3 linked regions of the Homo sapiens genome follow. The protein of the gene in region 1 purifies or fractionates together with the protein of each later gene. This does not show direct contact. Each region holds a gene or a part of one and is shown in the gene's direction. Other genes may lie near its edges.

Region 1 (5,535 bases):
TTTTGTAAAATTGAACAGCTATGTAGAGATTGTTTTGGGATCTGTTTCTGTCACAGCCCCATGTTACCTCCAGCTTTAATGTTTGTCTTGTGTGTTTTCATACAGGTAATTAGGAAAAACAGGGATGTGCCTCTCAAAACTTTACAAACTGGCCTTAGTCTGTCATCCTTTGAGTATTTTGTAAAAAATAATCTTATTATTCAGTTTAATTGTGCTTCTCTTTAGCTAATATTCACTTTTTCCACAGTGATAACATATAGTCTTGCCACAAGTCTTCTGTCATCCCTTTGTGTCTACAGCATTACCTTGACTTGCCAGTTTAGTAAAACAATCCAAAAGGAAATAACTGGTATCACAAGGCTTAGTGAACCTATTCTGAGCTCTAGTAATCACTGCTGTCATTTTCTCAGTGTTTAAAAATCATGTCATTGTTCTTGCAGTAGCTTTTGTCAAGTTTTACGTTATGGCTTTACTGACACTCATGTGTTACAGTCTCATTTTATCATTATATGCTGTTCTTCCCATTTGTGTTTCCTTTCGCTCCTAAACCCAAGCTTCTTAGAGAACTCTGTATTTACCCACACCAATTTCTGTGTCTCCTTTATATGAGAATCATGAAATCATTTTGTCACATATAATCTGTTACATATAATGCACATTCTTTTATATATTATATATTACATATATTCTCTCTATATAAAACATGTATCTCTATATCTGTTATATTCTTTTTTGTTGTTGTTTTGAGACAGAGTTTCACCCTCTTACCCAGGGTGGAGTGCAGGTGCAATCACGGCTCACTGCAGCTGCGAACTCCTGGGCTCAGGTGATCTTCCCATCTCAGCCTGCCAAGTAGCTGGGACTACAGATGCACACCACCACATGTGGCTAATTTTTATATTTTGTAGAGACGGGGTCTGGCTATTTTGCCCAGGCTGGTCCCGAACTCCTGGAATCAAGTGATCCACCCACCTTGGCCTCCCAAAGTACTAGAATTACAGGTGTGAGCCACCGTGCCCGGCCCTATGTTATATTTTTGAGAACTTCCTAGCTGTGAAGTCATTCTTAAGTTCTTCCTAAATAAAAAAAAAAGTTCTACCTAAAAGGGGGAAATTAAAAATTCCGTCTTCTAAACAAAGTGTTCTAAACTTGATTGTTTGCAGCTTATTTTGAAAGTAATCAAAGATCCTTCTGTACCTTTTAGTCTTCATCTCTAAATCTACAAAGAGGAACACATGCCTCATATGACTATATGTGTGTTATAAATAGAAAATGATATTCTAATGTTCTTTTAACTTTTCAGGACACTGTATGCTCTTTGATTCAGGACAATTAGTGTATTTTTCCAGAAATAGCTATTCACATGTAAAGTGTCACTAAAGTAGATTATAGAGTTTTATGGCAGGAACAGTGGTAGAGGGAAGGGAGGAGACAATATTTATTAAGAGTATCTTATGTGCTAGGTTTGGTGTTGGAAAGTAATCTAAGTAGTTAGTAATGGGAGTTGGCTGGAATGATCATTTGAGGGATGATTCAAAGGTGGTTTTTGGTTGTAATTATGGTGCTATTTATATATATTTTTTTCTTTTAAAGGAGCAGTGAGGAGAATGAATACCTTCCAAGACCAGAGTGGCAGCTCCAGTAATAGAGAACCCCTTTTGAGGTGTAGTGATGCACGGAGGGACTTGGAGCTTGCTATTGGTGGAGTTCTCCGGGCTGAACAGCAAATTAAAGATAACTTGCGAGAGGTGTGACATGTGCTTTTCTCTTCTGTTGTCTGGACTCTTGACACAGGGCTGATTTGAGCATGGCCAAGGACTTGGTCTCTCCGTGCCAGCAAAAAATTTCACCCCATGCCTTGCGTGGTCTACTTGGTCCCCGTCAGTTGCCTGATATACTGGTGCCTTTCATCCCAAGGGGAAATAAGGCAGATGCTAGAAGAGTCTGGAAAACCCTGTGCCATTCTAGAAAATTCTATTCAGCTTACTTAGATTACTAACTACTTAGATTTTTGATTACTCCTCTGTGTGATTCCTCAGGCACTGTGACCAGTAAAAATATGAAATGAGTGAGCAGTATCCTCTCAGCTGCATCCTCTTGATTGCATGAAGGATGCACTTGAGCATCCTCCCCATCATCTTTTAGCTGGTTAATGGCATTGTTCTGTAAATGACTATCTGTTAGGGCAAGCCAGAGTGAAATCTGTTGTTGGTTCCAGTAGTATTTTGTTGTTGTGTGTGTTAGACCAAGTATTACATGACTTTGAAACACAACTTTATTAAACAGAAAAAAATGTGTTTTAAAATACAGTTTCTTATGTATATTGTCACGGATAATTTATGGCCTGTTTTGACTTTTTCCCTTGGGATTTTTATATTTAGCCCTGTTTGAATCACTGTTTATGCTTCCAGAAATATTAGTTTATAATTTTACTTAAATTGTCTACCCTAATGGTCTTTTAGCTGTTGACATGTGGTGGCACATCTCTTTACTAAATTGGCCTCCTGTAAATGGACCGCTCATTCTGTGGGGTGAGAAAAGAGATAAGGGGCTAGCTATTAAGTTAATACTCTGTCTTTATTCTGCTGATAAACTTGTAAAACCGTAGGTTTTTAAATTATGTGGAAAACTGAGGGGGTCAGTATTTCCTGGTACATTCTTGTATTTTCTCTTGATTAGGACACCCAAATTAAACCTAATCCTCTTAGAAGGCTGGGTATTGAAGAAGGATTTTAGAGTTTAGGTATGCCTTTATGGCTAGGATTCTTAAATTGGGGTCCATAGGGCTTTAGTGGGTCCTTGGGTGGGCTTTGGAACACTAAACCCTGAAATTATAGGTAAAATCTTGAAAATATACATTTTTTCTGGGGAGATACTTCATAGATGTCATTGGATAATTAAAAGGATTTGTGGTCCCCCCAACCCCACCCCCCCAAAAAAAGTTTTAGAAACTCACTATTCTTTGGGAAACATCATTCTTTGGGATTAACACTAGGAAGCTAACATGTATGTGTTTCCTAGGTCAAAGCTCAGATTCACAGTTGCATAAGCCGTCACCTGGAATGTCTTAGAAGCCGTGAGGTATGGCTGTATGAACAGGTGGACCTTATTTATCAGCTTAAAGAGGAGACACTTCAACAGCAGGCTCAGCAGCTCTACTCGGTAAGGTGACTGCATGGCTAGAATTGGTTTGAGCATGGCTTCTGGTTGCCAGAGAGTATCTTCCTTGTAATGCAGTGTTAATATAGATCAGATAGAAGTTTAATCTCAAGTGCTGTTTGGTAACTTGAGTATATCTGGTGCTTTTGGTGTCATTGTGGCTAGTTGGTTTCATTTTTCTTTTAGTTATTGGGCCAGTTCAATTGTCTTACTCATCAACTGGAGTGTACCCAAAACAAAGATCTAGCCAATCAAGTCTCTGTGTGCCTGGAGAGGTAATGACCCTTTTTGCGTATTTTAACTTTTGACTCTTGAACTTTGGTATACTAAAAGAAAGTCGATTTTGTAACTCATTGCTTGTGTTATATTTAACTTCTGTGTTGCTAGGATAAGATCATTCTGCTTCATGTATTTAATATTATACTTGCTGATACATGAATAAGCCATCTATCTTTGGTTGAGTTTCTTAGAGAAGTGTAATCATTTAAAATTACTCACAATTTGGCTTTTGTTTTAGATGAAGTTGATGAAACAGATATTCCTTAAAAATAGCCAATTTTGTTTTTTTTTCCCCAGACTGGGCAGTTTGACCCTTAAGCCTGAAGATTCAACTGTCCTGCTCTTTGAAGCTGACACAATTACTCTGCGCCAGACCATCACCACATTTGGGTCTCTCAAAACCATTGTGAGTAATCTCATATGCTTCACTGGGCACTTCTCATATCTGTGGCCTCACAGCTGGTCTTAAAAAAAATTGCTATGAATAGTGACTTTCTTGAGAATTTGATTAGCTTCAAAAATTTCATGTTCTCAGCTGGGCGTGGTGGCTCACGCCTGTAATCCTAGCACTTTGGGAGGCCGAGGAGGGCGGATCACTTGAGGTCAGAAGTTCAAGACCAGCCTGGCCAACATGGTGAAAACCCATCTCTATTAAAAATACAAAAAAATTAGCTGGGCGCCTATAATCCCAGCTACTTGGAAGGCTGAGGCAGGAGGATCGCTTCAAGCTGGGAGGCGGAGGTTGCAGTGACCTGAGATCGTGCCACTGCATTCCAACCTGGGCGACAAACAGTGAGACTCCGCCTAAAAAAAAAAAAATTCATATTCTGATTAAGTTGCCTAGGTTGGTAGTTCTTGGAATGTAGTACAGACTCAGTGATACTCTTTGGAATGCCTCATGTATCTCTCTAAATACTTTTGAAATATTTTTTGTAAAATTTATGGCTTGAATAGTTTTTAATAAAGAACGAAACGTTTGGGTCTTGTTAAAAGTGGTAATACAACCAATTCTGGTAAAGATTTTTTATATAATAGTTATGTGGTAGAGTATTCTCAAATTTGATAACTACTTTGTAAGTCATGGAATTTAGTGTGAACAGTATTTCTAATGAAATGGTAATGCTTTAACATTTTTGAAATTTGGAATTATAATTTCACTTTTTTGGCAGCATAGCATAAATAACATGATTAAATTATCTCTATTTTGTAGCAAATTCCTGAGCACTTGATGGCTCATGCTAGTTCAGCAAATATTGGGCCCTTCCTGGAGAAGAGAGGCTGTATCTCCATGCCAGAGCAGGTAAAATATCATTTTGTTTTTGGTAATTGAGTCATTACTTGGCTTATACTTCCTTTGGGTTTTATATAGCATTAAAAAAATGCTACTATTTGTAAAAAGGCACCAGTGGCAATGAGTTAGTTTATGAAATTGAATGCTTCCCTTGAGACCTAATGCCAAATAGAAATTTAGATGTCTTGTCGGGGCTGATTAACAGAAAAAGTAATTATCAATCAGTTCACAGGAAATTATCATTAGCTGTCTTACTGATACTGGTTCTCTGTGAGCGATCCTCTTTATAATTTGTAGAGATGATTTATTTCTAAAGGAATGGCAATGTGAATAAAGGTTTCTATATGTTTTAGTTGAGAAGAGCCCTAGAGATCAGCTGTGTGTCTCTTGTTTTATAATTGTGAAAATTGAGGCTCTTGGAAGGCACATGATTTGCCCAGGGTCAGTGGCAAGCCAAGATTAGAGAGTGGCTCTTCTCTTTTTCTGGTGAACTTTCTACTGCATTTGACATTCCTTGTTTTGTGATTAACAGAAGTCAGCATCCGGTATTGTAGCTGTCCCTTTCAGCGAATGGCTCCTTGGAAGCAAACCTGCCAGTGGTTATCAAGCTCCTTACATACCCAGCACCGACCCCCAGGACTGGCTTACCCAAAAGCAGACCTTGGAGAACAGTCAGGTCTGTTGCTGCTTTTATTGTTTCTACAGTAGACACAGCAGTAGGTGGAGTTAGTTACTAATCAGTAGTACTATGTGTCATTGTTAACTTTTTGGTTGCAGTCTGGAAACATATTTATTAATAGTCTCTT
Region 2 (3,500 bases), on another chromosome or scaffold:
TGAACTCACATTTATTTAATACTTATTGGGTATCAGACATGAAAATAGGTACTTTTACACACATTTTCTTTTTTTCATTTCTATTTCAATATTTTTTGAACTACAAGTGTTTTTTTCTGTTGCATGGGTAAATTATATAGCAGTAAATTCTGAGATTTTTAGTGCACCCACCACCTCAGTAGTGCACGTTGTACCTAATGTGTAATATTTTTATGCCTAGCCTGTCTCACCCACCCTCTTCTGAGTCTCTAGATTCCATTATATCACTCTGTATACCTTTGCATAATCATAGCTTATCTGTCACTTATAAGTGAGAACATCTATTTTTTTTATTTTTCACTCCTGTGTTACTTTACTTAGAATAGTGGACTCCACCTCCATCCAAGTTACTGCAAAAATACATTATTGCGATCCTTTTTATGGCTGAGGAGTATTACATAGTGTATATACACCACATTTACTTTATCCACTCGTTAGTCAATTGGCACATAGATTCATTCCACATCTTTGCAATTGTGATTAGTAGGATTGCTGTATCAAATGGTAGATTTACTTGTAGCTCTTTAAGGAATCTCCATACTGTTTTCTATAGAAGTTGTACTAATTTACATTTCTACCAGCAGTGTAGAAGCTTTCTCTTTTATCCACATATCTACCAGCATCTATTTTTTTTTCACTTTTTAATAATAGCCATTCTTGCAGTAACGTGCTATTTTATTCTGGTTTTAATTTGCATTTCTCTGACGATTAGTGATGTGGAGCATTTTTTCGTGTTTGTTGGCCATTTGTATATCTTCTTTTGAGGAATCTCTATTTATGTCCTTTGCCCACTCTATAATGGGATTATTTCTCTTTCTATTGCTGACTTGTTTGAGTTCCTTGTAGATTCTAGTTTCTAGTCCTTTGTCAGATGCATAGTCTGCAAATATTTTCTCTCATTCTGTGGGTTGTCTGTTTACTCGGATTATTATTTTCAGACACATTTTTCTTTAATGCTCAAAACAAATTATGTGGCAGGAACCATTCTAATTTTACAAAAGAGGAAACTGAAGCCTGGTGATATGAAGTGAATTGTTTCAGGCCAGAGAACCGACAATTGAGACATGATATGATACCAGGTCTTCCAAAGAACATGATTATTTCCACCCATAAAATGCTGCCACAGCTGCAAAAATGATATCTAATTAGGCCGCCTTCCTAAATGATTGAAAGTCCAATACATATTCCTGCATGAAAGTTCAAATTCAAACTTTAAGTTGTTGTTTTGTTAATGGTCTAATTGCTTTAATTCATTTTAAGGATAAAAATAATTTTCACTTCCTCTAACAGAAGAAAATGTCTGTACTTGCAGAATGTGTCCAAATTTGTGTGTATCTCATGTCAACCAGGCTTATTTGGAGTTGATGTAGATTTATTCAGGAAACAGCAGAGTTTCCAATTCTAGCTGCTACTCTTTGGTTCTGGTTGTAAGCGGCTGAATGAAGAACACCGGGGTCATGGAGATCAGATTGGCTTGGATAATTCATGTGAAATTTAGTGGTTAAAAAATAAAAGAAAAAGGTAAGATGAGGCAAAGCAAGTTAAGTTCCCAGATGACATGTAAAAGTTATCCTCTAGAGAGTGGGAGGGGCCCCCATCAGCAACTTGTTTTCTCTGTTTAATTTTTTCTTCCCCTCCCAGGATGACAAGCCCACAGACAGGCTTCAGCATCAAATAAAATGGAGAAGTAAATTTGATAAACATGTTTACTTAGTGGTGCCAGTGACTTACTGATGAGTGGTGAAAAGACAGGGAAGATTGAGAGTGAAGATTTATGGAGTTGGTACCAGCTGCATAAATGGTGGCAGTGTCAATGGTGATGATATTAGTTAGGAGCAGGGTTCAGAGGGGGAATTCTCATGAAATCATACCAAATGAGAGCTAGAAGGGAGTTAAAGGTCATCTAGTTCAAATCATATTATTTTAATAATGAGGAAATGAAACTCACAGAAGGGAAAGAGCGTATCAGAGCAGCACAAAGAGTATATAAAATTACTGAAATCCAAGTATCTTAGCTACAAATCCAGTACACCTTTCTATATATTATACTGCTTTTGAGTCTTCTGTATCCTACAGCAAGTCTTGTCCTATTCAGATCACTCCTGTTGTAAAGAAATTGTTCCATTACTTCTATCTACAGATTTGTTATAATTTGAATTCATAAGCACAATTCCATAAAGAACGTTGGTTTTGATATAATCCTATCCTGACACCTGGTGGGCAGCAATTTGCCATATATGCATAGTGCATATGCATAAAACTGCTAGAACTAGAACCGAAAACAATAGCTTTTTTATCTCTGAGGAACAGTCTTATCCACAGAAATACCACTTTAAAATATGTTTCTGTCCATATAATAAGTTATTCAGCTAAAAATAACTTTAGCTTTCTGGGCTTATGAAAAGCCTTATTAAAGCTGAAATCATAACTCTGACTGCAGAAAGTCACTTACTCCTGCTGAGACTCCATTTTCTAATCTGTAAAGGAGTATAATAGTAATTAACTCAGAATTCTTACAAAGATTAGAGGTAACGTGAATAGCACTTAGCTAGTTACTGACAGGATGTGGAAATTTCCTCACTGGGACTTAGGAAACTAATATAAATTCTGATGCCATAATAATATAAGCTCAGTTTGGCTGTAACTTTGTGAAAACCACAACGTTGAGCTAGTTGGTTGGGAAGAGCAGCTGCTTTTGGGTAGATGGTATTAGTATCTAGTAAGATTTTGGGCTCAGCTCCAATGAATCATATTTAAAGACCTTCCATACCTTTGTATTCTGAGAAAACATTTAGTTGTTTCCACAAAATAAAGTTTTCAGTGATCAAATTCCTAATTAAGTTTAAGGGATTCCTGTTGGATTTCAAAACGAAAGCTGGATTGCCTTCTTTAAAGCTCTTAGGTGTTCAGATTTCTTAGACTAAAACCTTATTATTCTTGCTTTGACCACATTTTCTTCAGTAGCAGAAAGGAGAAAGATTATGGCTGTTGTTTAGGAGAGTGTTTCATGGGAGAGACTTTACAAGTAAAAATGCCTAATGCTCTGCTAATATGTGCCTATGCTCTGTAGTCTTACCTTCTCACAGTGCAGCCTATAAATTCAGTAGGTGTTCGAAGAAGAGGGGAGTGAGAGTAGGGTTGCCCGATGTAAGGAAAAAATGGGAGTTGAGATGCGATATTGAGACAGAAGTAAAATATTGACCTCTGAGTTGGGCTCCAGGTAAAAAAGGAATATGATGGAGTTTTAGTCATAACTTTGTGCGTGCCATTTTTATTATCAGGAACATCTTTAGAGCCATACTTTGATTTTTGTTTTTTTGCCCATATTTTCTTCAACTTTTATTTTAAGTTTAGGGGTACATGTGCAGGATGTGCAGGGTTGTGACATAGGTAAATGTGTGTCATGGTCGTTTGCTGCAAAGATCATCCCATCACCTAGTTATTAAGCCCAGCATCCATTA
Region 3 (3,500 bases), on another chromosome or scaffold:
GCTAATACACTGGAGGAGCTAGTGAAGCTTTAGAAGTTCCGTATGGGCTTTTAGAACAAATGTAGGAAAACAGATCCACTTAAAAACAAAAAGCCTAGAATGCTCTAAAACCTTTAGATGACATTTAATTGGAATGCTTGACATTTCCTACTTATTTTCAAAAATAAATTTTCCAAGTGTAGGACACAGGGATCTAAAAGACGTGAGGTTCTACTTGGCAGTAAGCCCTTAAACACCAACATTTTTTATGCAATTTCAGCTGTATCAATAAAAGCAGACTGTTCCAGATAGACAAATGTACTCTGCAGTGATCATGACACAATTGTAGCATTGCATTCAGCTCTGAGTAAAACATCTCGAGAGGGCCATTTAAAAATTGCAGTGTGTTCGCTGAAGGAGGGCAACCTGAATGGCGAGGGCAGTAACCTATGCTGTGGGAAGAATGGTTGAAGAGCTCAGGATGTTTGACTTGGACAAGGGGATTCTCAGAGGAGGGCTGAGGTGCATTCAAATATTTGAATGGCTGTCACGGAGAAGGGGTGGGGAGAGCTGATTCACTGTGTGTCCTTCCACAGGACAAAGCACAGCCTCTGAAAGGCAGATTTAGGATCTAAGCAAGGAATAACTTTTTAGCAGACGCAACTATTTCACAGGGCAGTAAGAGGCTTCGTGAAATGGTGAGCTCCCTGTTACTCAAAGTGCTCAAACAAAACTGGGGACAATTTGATGAGACAGCCTTTAGGGTTTTGACAATTTCTATATTCTGGTTTTAAGCTCCAGAGAAGGAAGGACACCCAATTCTACAAGGACTTTATTAAGCAATCAGTTGGGCCATACCCTGTGCCAGCTAGAAAAGCAGAGAGAGACAGGAGTTTAATTAAAATTGCCAAAAGAACTGCAGTGCGGTTCCTCCTTCCTGCTTCTCCCAACCTCAGCACAACTCACCGACAAGTAGTTACTATGCTTCGATTCTTTCATGCTGCATTTACAAACACTGCCTCAGTACACAAGTGCTCAGTCAGTTTTCCTGCCTGACCAACTGTGGTTTGTGGCTGCAGCTGTTAAAGGCTATTTGTAAAATCTTGTTGTTCGTAGTTGACTACTCCTTGCCACACTAGACATTCTGCTGCTGAGTCAGGGGCCGCCACAATGCAAATGGCAGCCTCAAGTGCACTGTGGGGGCCACTGCTGACCACTGAATGTGCCTTGACTTGGTCCATGACTACAAAGGGACTGTATCTTTGGCTGGAAGCGGTCAGAGGAAAAACTAGGTTTGCAGATGAGAGTCATCAGAATCTTGAGGATCCTGCTTCTTGTGATGCATCTTGGCAAGTTGATGGCTTTTACTGGATCCATGATCACTTTTTTCTCTGAACCCAGGAAGAAACATTACAAATACACTGCAAGCTATTAAAAATGATGAAATATTGCCAGCATGAAATGATTTATTCACATCAGAGCAAAGAAGGGTGAGCTCATTCCAAGAAAAATCCATCTGTACAAATGTCATTAAAAATGTCCACCATTGGGAATGATAGCAAGAGGGGGAAAAAATTGTCCACCGAACAGAAACTAAACTGCTACCATGGCGATTCCCAAGAGGGGAACTGTGGAGAGGGAGAAGAGAGATTTTACCTTCTACATCATATGTTTCCATGTTATTTGAGGTTCCTTTTTTGCATGTGCTTTTTTATATTAATAAAGACACATTGCCATTTTGAAACAGAAAGACATGCCCACCAAGAAGATGACATTGGGTGTAAATTGTGATAGTTACAAGACTGCTATTTTCTTCAACAGAGAAAACTAAGGTAGTCTGTAAAAGTAACACCTTCAGAGCTGGCTACATTTTAAATTTGTGATTTCTATTTTCCTGGATACTGCTGGCATGTTTGAAAATACATATGGTGCTATGTATGCCCTAAGTGGCTGTTCACAAATGGGATCAAAGCTACACAAAACACATTTCTAATCAATTTCTTTTGTCCTTTATAGATCTTATTGGCCTGCCATGGGTGTGCTTTATATATACAATCATGAGTCTAGCATCCCTGCTTTTTGTTGTTATGTTTATACCTGAGACAAAGGGATGCTCTTTGGAACAAATATCAATGGAGCTAGCAAAAGTGTAAGTATTACATGCATTGGTTTCTGAACAATACTCTTTGGTCAAAAGTGCAGCTTTTATATACAGCAAAGGAATAATATCTGAAATTATTAGATATTATTAGATTAGGACATTCCCTTTAGCGTAAGACTATGTCTCAGTGCATAATTCCAATTTCCCTGCTTTGTCTTTAATTTGGGTGATTCAGCTAAGGAAGAATAACCATTTCTTCCCAATGAATGAAGCTTTTTTTTTTTTTTTCAAACTACAAAGTGAATGTATTTGATTGGCAAGTGCAAATTTTCACTTATCAATGAAATATTGTACTGAATTTGAATAAAATCTTTACAATTGGAATGTTTTTTAACGTTAGCCTTTTATAATTATCATCAAACTGTAATGCTATTATTCATTACTATGACCAACCAATATGTACGTACAAGGTTACAAGTTTTTTCCTTTTATACGAAACAAAAACAAAAATACATCATTGTAATTAAAAAGCATTAAACCATATTTTCCTTTTTTGTAATGTAATAATTTTTACTAGAACAAAGTTTAATATTTTCACTGTCTGCATTTCTTTTCGGAAAAAGAAACTGTTACTATTGTTGTTTTACCTGATTTTTTCCTGAAACTAATTTTGTTGTACAGAGGATGTGAATCTTCTGTGCTACTGATTAAAACTATCTCATTTAAAAAACAGTTTATTTCCATAGGTTTTTGGGGAACAGGTGATATTTGGTTACAGAGTAAGTTCTTTAGTGGCGATCGTGAGATTTTGGTGCACCCATCACCGGAGCAGTATACATTGAACTCAATTTGTAGTCTTTTATCCCCCACCACCCCCCAATGCTTCCCCCACCCAGTCCCCAACCAACGGGTGAACATTTTAAAGCTCTACTCAATCACCATCTCAGAACTTCTTCCGCCTCTCTAGCTCCCCCCAACAGGTTTTCTTTGTTTGGGGTTTGGGGTGGGTCCCGGAAGTGTAGATATACCATGTTCACACTGGGCTAGGAACTTGGGTCTCAGCCTTTCCATCTCTATCAGACTTAGAGCTCCTTCTCTGTGCCCTAAACACTTGCTAAGGCTAAGATTAGCAGAAAAACTCTCAGGCTTAACCATCTACCGTTGTTCTAAATATTGCACATTTAAGGTAATTTTAAGAAAGATAAGTTTCTTATATGAATAGGCTTTTAGAAAACTGGTTTAAAAAATTTCACAAGGAGAGATTGTTTAAACAATTTAACTTAGAAGTGAAACATTTAATTTAGAAGTGAGTGGCAGAAAATTCCCTTTCCTTTTTTAGTAGCTCTAATTGCCAAAACCATGTCCTGGGGGAAGAGGTGAGACATAGGGGCTAAGAATGAAGCAGAACTTGTTACTCTTC

Evidence for each region.
Region 2: the proteins of NCOA4 (region 1) and P2RY10 purify together in Homo sapiens (co-immunoprecipitation; one large-scale study listed by IntAct). This does not show direct contact.
Region 3: the proteins of NCOA4 (region 1) and SLC2A12 purify together in Homo sapiens (co-immunoprecipitation; one large-scale study listed by IntAct). This does not show direct contact.

What each region holds. Positions count from the first base shown.
Region 1 is NC_000010.11:46,012,753-46,018,287, reverse strand, and holds part of NCOA4 (nuclear receptor coactivator 4), read left to right. Parts: intron 1-1,593; coding exon of another isoform or gene 1,594-1,607; coding exon 1,608-1,748; intron 1,749-3,021; coding exon 3,022-3,162; intron 3,163-3,345; coding exon 3,346-3,434; intron 3,435-3,735; coding exon 3,736-3,844; intron 3,845-4,648; coding exon 4,649-4,738; intron 4,739-5,261; coding exon 5,262-5,405; intron 5,406-5,535. UniProt on the Homo sapiens protein: Cargo receptor for the autophagic turnover of the iron-binding ferritin complex, playing a central role in iron homeostasis. Acts as an adapter for delivery of ferritin to lysosomes and autophagic degradation of ferritin, a process named ferritinophagy.
Region 2 is NC_000023.11:78,948,391-78,951,890, forward strand, and holds part of P2RY10 (putative P2Y purinoceptor 10), read left to right. Parts: intron 1-3,500. UniProt on the Homo sapiens protein: Putative receptor for purines coupled to G-proteins.
Region 3 is NC_000006.12:134,000,625-134,004,124, reverse strand, and holds part of SLC2A12 (solute carrier family 2, facilitated glucose transporter member 12), read left to right. Parts: intron 1-1,995; coding exon 1,996-2,128; intron 2,129-3,500. UniProt on the Homo sapiens protein: Insulin-independent facilitative glucose transporter.